2 separate regions of the Homo sapiens genome follow, and region 1 is linked to region 2. Evidence: fine-mapped QTL for protein levels in blood plasma. A gene starts in region 2. The other region holds a variant in brackets. All regions are shown on one strand. Distances are between the middles of the regions. Region 1 overlaps KREMEN1 (kringle containing transmembrane protein 1). Region 2 holds the start of KREMEN1 (kringle containing transmembrane protein 1).

The links. A credible set is the group of variants that fine-mapping cannot tell apart. PIP is the chance, under the fine-mapping model, that this variant and not a neighbour inherited with it causes the effect. Sun 2018 read protein levels with aptamers (SomaScan).
Region 1: its variant is the best candidate, but not a certain one, in a credible set for the plasma level of the KREMEN1 protein (Sun 2018, PIP 0.75).

The regions. Positions count from the first base shown.
Region 1 is chr22:29,110,667-29,113,642 of GRCh38, forward strand. The region is part of intron 3 of KREMEN1 (kringle containing transmembrane protein 1); the gene reads left to right. Among named protein-coding and RNA genes, the nearest start is that of KREMEN1, 39 kb to the left of the region's middle. The variant CA/C (reference allele first, on the strand shown) is at 947.
Region 2 is chr22:29,072,264-29,074,763 of GRCh38, forward strand. It overlaps KREMEN1 (kringle containing transmembrane protein 1), which reads left to right and starts at 772. Exons shown (of 9, transcript NM_001039570.3): 1 at 772-964. The coding sequence starts at 868. It also overlaps a transcript of C22orf31 not described here. RefSeq lists a silencer at 461-790.

The DNA.
Region 1 (2,976 bases), 39 kb after region 2:
AAGACTCGGGGGCACAATTAAGACTGTTGGAAGAATCAGAGTGACTGAAAAGGAAGTTTATGTTTAGAAATAAAGTTACAGAGGTAGTGTGGGGCCATATCATGAGAAGGGGTTGGACCAAGATGGCAGCTGTCAGATTTGGAACGGAAGTTGCAGATGAACAGCACAGGGTGCAGTGAGCTTACGGTCACGGGTCTGAGGGTGTGGATGAATCCACACTTAACCTGTTGATGCTCTGAAAGAAGTAGGATACCAGCTGCAGCGTCTCAGATGTACATAGTTTTTCTTTCCATGGAGGGGAGAAATCAGCTACTGAGGCACCAGTGTGGGGTCCTTGAGGCAGAAGATAGTATTGACACAGAGTTAAATGACATTTAAAATCAGCAGAGAAGCACTTTGGGAGGCTGAGGCAGGAGGATCACTGGAGGCCACAAGTTTGAGACAAGCCTGGGCAACATAGTGAGACCCCATCTCTACAAGATACACAAATAATTAGCCAGCCATGGTAGTACACACTGGTAGTCCCAGCTACTCGGGAGGCTGAGATGGGAAGATCACTTGAGCTCAGGAGTTCAAGACTGCAGTGAGTATGATTGTATCACTGCACTCCAGCCTGGGCAACAGAGTGAGACCCTGTCTCTATTAAAAAAAAAAAAAAAAATTAGGCCGGGTGCGGTGGCTCACGCCTGTAATCCCAGCACTTTGGGAGGCCGAGGCGGGCGGATCATGAGGTCAGGAGATCGAGACCATCCTGGCTAACACAGTGAAACCCCGTCTCTACTAAAAAAATACAAAAAATTAGCCGGGCGTGGTGGCGGGCGCCTGTAGTCCCAGCTACGCGGGAGGCTGAGGCAGGAGAATGGCGTGAACCCGGGAGGCAGAGCTTGCAGTGAGCTGAGATCGCGCCACTGCACTCCAGCCTGGGCGACAGAGCGAGACTCCGTCT[CA/C]AAAAAAAAAAAAAAAAAAAAAAATTAGCAGAGGAGTTACATCATTTCTGAAGAAGCAGATTTTACTTAGGAAAAAAAAAAAAGGAGCTCTGCAGAGCCTTGGAAAGAGTTTTTTAGTTTTTTAAGACATAGGACAAGAACTTAGCATCTGGTTTCTTAAAGCAAATATCCCAGATCTGGTGAGAGCAGTGGAATAGAAAACATAATAATAGTCAGGGCTGCTTCTTAGTGAATTACCAGCTGAAGATTTAGATTCAAACTGAGCCTTTACTATGATGGCCGTGCCTTCTGTCTTCGATAATGATTTGGTTACCAGGACTAGAACTCATTCAAGCTAACTTGAGCAAAAGAAATCAATTTGAAGACCATTGGGATGTATCACAGAACCCAAACCCTGTATCCCAAGAAACTAGAAAGAAAGCAGGGACTTTCACTATCTGTCTCTGTGGCCACTTCATCTCCCTTCTCTGCCTCTCTCTCAGCTTGTTATCCATCCTTCTTCCTCTTCGTGGACCAGCAGAATTGGCTCATTCATCCACTCACGTGGCTCAAACTTGAGTTTGGTTGCCTCAACTCCTACTTGACAAATCCCTACAATTTCAGTGCTTGCATTCACTGAGCGGATCCCAATTCCAGCTTCCTAAGAAAGAGAATCTGGTGGCCCCAGTGTGAGGCAGCTGTGGCCAGAGGATGGAGCCCTTTGTCTTGTCCCCAGCCAGCAGTAGTTATGGGAGCAGATGCTCTGAGAAGGTGCTGTGGGTAATAGGTGGTTCTCAAAGAACAGCTGTCAGCCATGGAGGCCCCCATGGAGGTGTGTGCAGTACCTTCACAATGAAGCCACAGTTATATTCAAATGTAACAATGTTTAGTGGGCCTGCCTGATTGCTTCCCAGTTGTTTCTTATGATAGTAAAAGAACAATAGTTCCTGGGTTAATGTGAATGGAGGACCTTCTCTCTTTAACTCCTCCAAAATTTTTATCTTCAACATCTGAATATTTGTAATTAATTTTCACAAGTTTTGAAGCCTCAGCTAAGATAAACAAGGGGTCCATTTGTATGTTAAGATAATTTTTTAAAAATTGAAAGTGATGAAGCCTCTTTGGTAAGAGGAAAAATGCATGACCAAGCCACAAGGATTTCAAAGTAAGCTTGAAATGAAAAAGGAATTTGAAGACAAATATCCTTTTTCAAATTGGCTTTTCCTCCCTGCTTCTGGGAAGCGCTAAGGGTGGGACACGATCTAGAAATCCACTCAGTTGAGTAGTAATGCTTTTGAAGCAACATGACGTGTCTTCTCCGACTAGACTTCGAGCCACACTTTCCAGGACAAGTCAGAGGCAGTGGCCCCCTCAGAGGCTGACTGGGACCGCAGAGGCTTCCCTCGTGGTGAACAGAGTGTTGAGGGACTAATGTGTTTGAGAATTCAGTCTTGAATCTCAGGTCTCAGGGAGTCACTTTCATTTAGTTGCCCAGACTGGTCCTATAAGAAAAGGGGTCAGAGACATGAAAAACAAAAACAAAAACCCATGGAATGGGAGTCGGCAATCCTGGAGCTTACCCTGGCTCTCCATTCTGCCTTATGTGTGCCCACACAAGGCCTTTAACCTTGTTAGACTGGTTTCTTCTTTGTCCAGTAGGAATAATATCATCTGTCCTGCCTCCCTGAAGGGGCTAGAGCTTCCTGTGAGCTGACTTATGTGAAAATGTGCTGTATGCTATACAGATGTAAGAGATTAATATTTTAATATCCGGAATCAAACCGTTTTCTGAGGTGGCTGCCTTTGATTTTTGTCTTTTAAATCAGCCTATTTTATTTTTCTGTTATTCAGCAAGTTGTTCTTGTTTGTGTGGTGAATGATGAAAGCCTTATTGTATATAATGATGACAAACACTATTTATTCAGCACATTCTATTCTGCTAGGCCTTGTGGTATTTACTTTATTTACATTATCTCATTTTATTTCTCACAAGAACCCTTTGAGGTCCGTATTGATTCTCATTCCGCTGTTGATGAAACTGAGCTGAGAA
Region 2 (2,500 bases):
TCTCCTGAGTAGCTGGGACCACTGAGTTATTTATTTTTTTCTTGTAGAGATGGGGTCTCGCTGTGTTGCCCAGGTTGGTCTCAGAATCCTGGGCTCAAGCGATTCTTCCGTCTCGGCCTCCCAAAGTGCTGGGATCACAGGAGTTGTTAGCCACCGCACTCGGCTGTAGGCATTCTTATTTAGTGCAAGCGCTCTGAGGAGTAGCAGCTATTATCACCTCCATTTAACAGATGAGGAAATTGAGGTAAGAGCTATTTTTCCTTTAAACCTGTCCAAGGTGTTACATGTGACCAAGTGGGATGTGAACTCTCCAAAGCATTCTTTTTTTAACCATTACGATGAGCTAAGCAAGGGAAAACAGTTTGCAAACTGCTGTTGTAATTATTACCGCTGTAGCTGAGCTCGCGCGTGGGTCACGACCTAAGTGAGGGTGGAGCAGGGGTCACTGGGAGCCCGGCCTATTTCAGCCCGGCCAAACCGCTTGGTGACTTGGAGGCCGGGCCGAGGCCCCGCCCCTCACCTGCTGATCCTACCCTTGGATGGGACAAACAGAGGGCCCTGCTGGGCCGGCCCAGGTGAGGCGAGAGATGGGCGGGGCCTGATGCGTGAGTGGCAGGAGCAGCGCGCGGCCGGGGCGGGGCGTGCGTGCGCAGTGGGCTCCGCCCCCCGGGCCTCTCCGCGGATCCGGGCGGGCCCCAGGCTGCAGGGGCGGTGGCGGCGCTGAGCTGGGCGGGCCGGGGCGGGGCGGCCGGGCGGCCGGGGCGGGGCTACACTCGGGCCCCGCGTCCTGCTCCCATGGCCGCCCCCGGCTCCCCGCGCTGCCCCCTTTACCCCGGGCCGCGCCCCGGGGCCCCGCACTGACGGCCCATGGCGCCGCCAGCCGCCCGCCTCGCCCTGCTCTCCGCCGCGGCGCTCACGCTGGCGGCCCGGCCCGCGCCTAGCCCCGGCCTCGGCCCCGGACCCGGTGAGTGTGAGCGACCCCCCGCCGCCCGCCCTGAGCGGAGCCCACTCGAGGGGCGACAAGGGCCGGCCGGCCTGAGAGCCCCCTCCCTCCCGCTTCAGGACCTTCCGGGCCCCTTCCCCTCGCCCCTAGGCGACGCCCCTCAGGCCGGGATGGTCCCTTCCTGGGACCCGGGCTACCCCCAGGCCCGTCATCGACGCCCCCGGGCCCGGTACTGTCCCCCGGCTGCAGGACCCGGTGCTCCTCAGCGACGCCCCTCAGCCCAGGAGGCCCTCTCCGCCTTGAGTCTTCCAAGACCCTCTGCGACGCCCCCCGGGCTGGGACATCTTCTCTGTCTCGGGATCTGGGACCCGCTGCCCGAGTCCCTCAGCGACCCCAACCAGGCCGGGACGCCCCCTCTCCCCGGTACCTCCTGGGATCCCGTCCCAAGTCCCCAGCGACTTCCCCCGGGCCGGGACGTCCTCTGCTCCCCGGTACCTCCTAGGATCCCGTCCCAAAATCCCCAGCGACTCCCCACGGGCCAGGAGGCCCCCTGCTCCCCGGTACCTCCTGGGATCCCGTCCCCAAGTCCCCAGCGACCCCTCCCGGGCCGGGACGACCCCTGCTCCCCAGTACCTCCTGGGATCCCGCCCCAAGTCCTTCATCGACGCACCTTGCACCGGGACGACTCCCCCGCTACAAGAGGCTATACGCCCCTCTCCGAGACCTCCAGCGACATCCCTCCCCTGGGCCAAGGTCCCCTCCCTGAGCCTCACTGCGACGCCCCCGCGTCCCCCAGTCCTCTCCTCCCGCCTACACCGGTGGAACCCGGCGCCTCCCCGCGCAGAGCAGAGCGGAGGCGGGAGGAGCCGGCGCTCAGCCCCTTTTCCCGAGTCCTCGGCTGCACCCGCTTGGCGGACATTATAACTTCTGCCTCGCGAGGAACGGGATGGACTTGTTCGCCCTGCTAGAGGCAGGTTAGGGTCCTGGGACGACCTTGTACCCAGACGGACGGGACGTGCCCTCTCTCTCCGCTGGGCCGCTTTGAACTTCCCTATGACTCAGGTGATGGCGCAGAAGGGGGAGAGAAAAAAGGAAGCAGTGATGGGAAACTTCTCCCCAACTGAGTTTAGGGTGCTCTTCCTGAGGGTGCAACGCCGAGCTCCGTGTTTTGGGTCAGCCCACACCTTAGACAGGTCACTCACTACCCAGGCCAAGGCCAAGGCCAGGTCTTCCCGAGGTGAGGCCCTGGACCAGGATGAAGCTTGGCTTTTGCTTAACTTCCACACGCAACCTTGTAGCCGAATCCTTTCTAAGTGGAAGAGAAGGCAAGAGGGCGTTGCATTTCTCTGCAGGCTGTTTGGGTGTTGAGCATAGGCCATTTGTGAAAGGGATGGGAAGAGTTTATTACCAGTCTGCAGGAGTAGGAAAACCCGCCTCTGGGTTCTCCACCCAAAGTCACAGACTGATGTTGGAAAGGATGGGATTTTGCTGGTGTAAGAAAACTCAGAGTTGCTTTGTTTACTCATTGGCTTGGATTAGCGAAAAAGCTAGGACTTG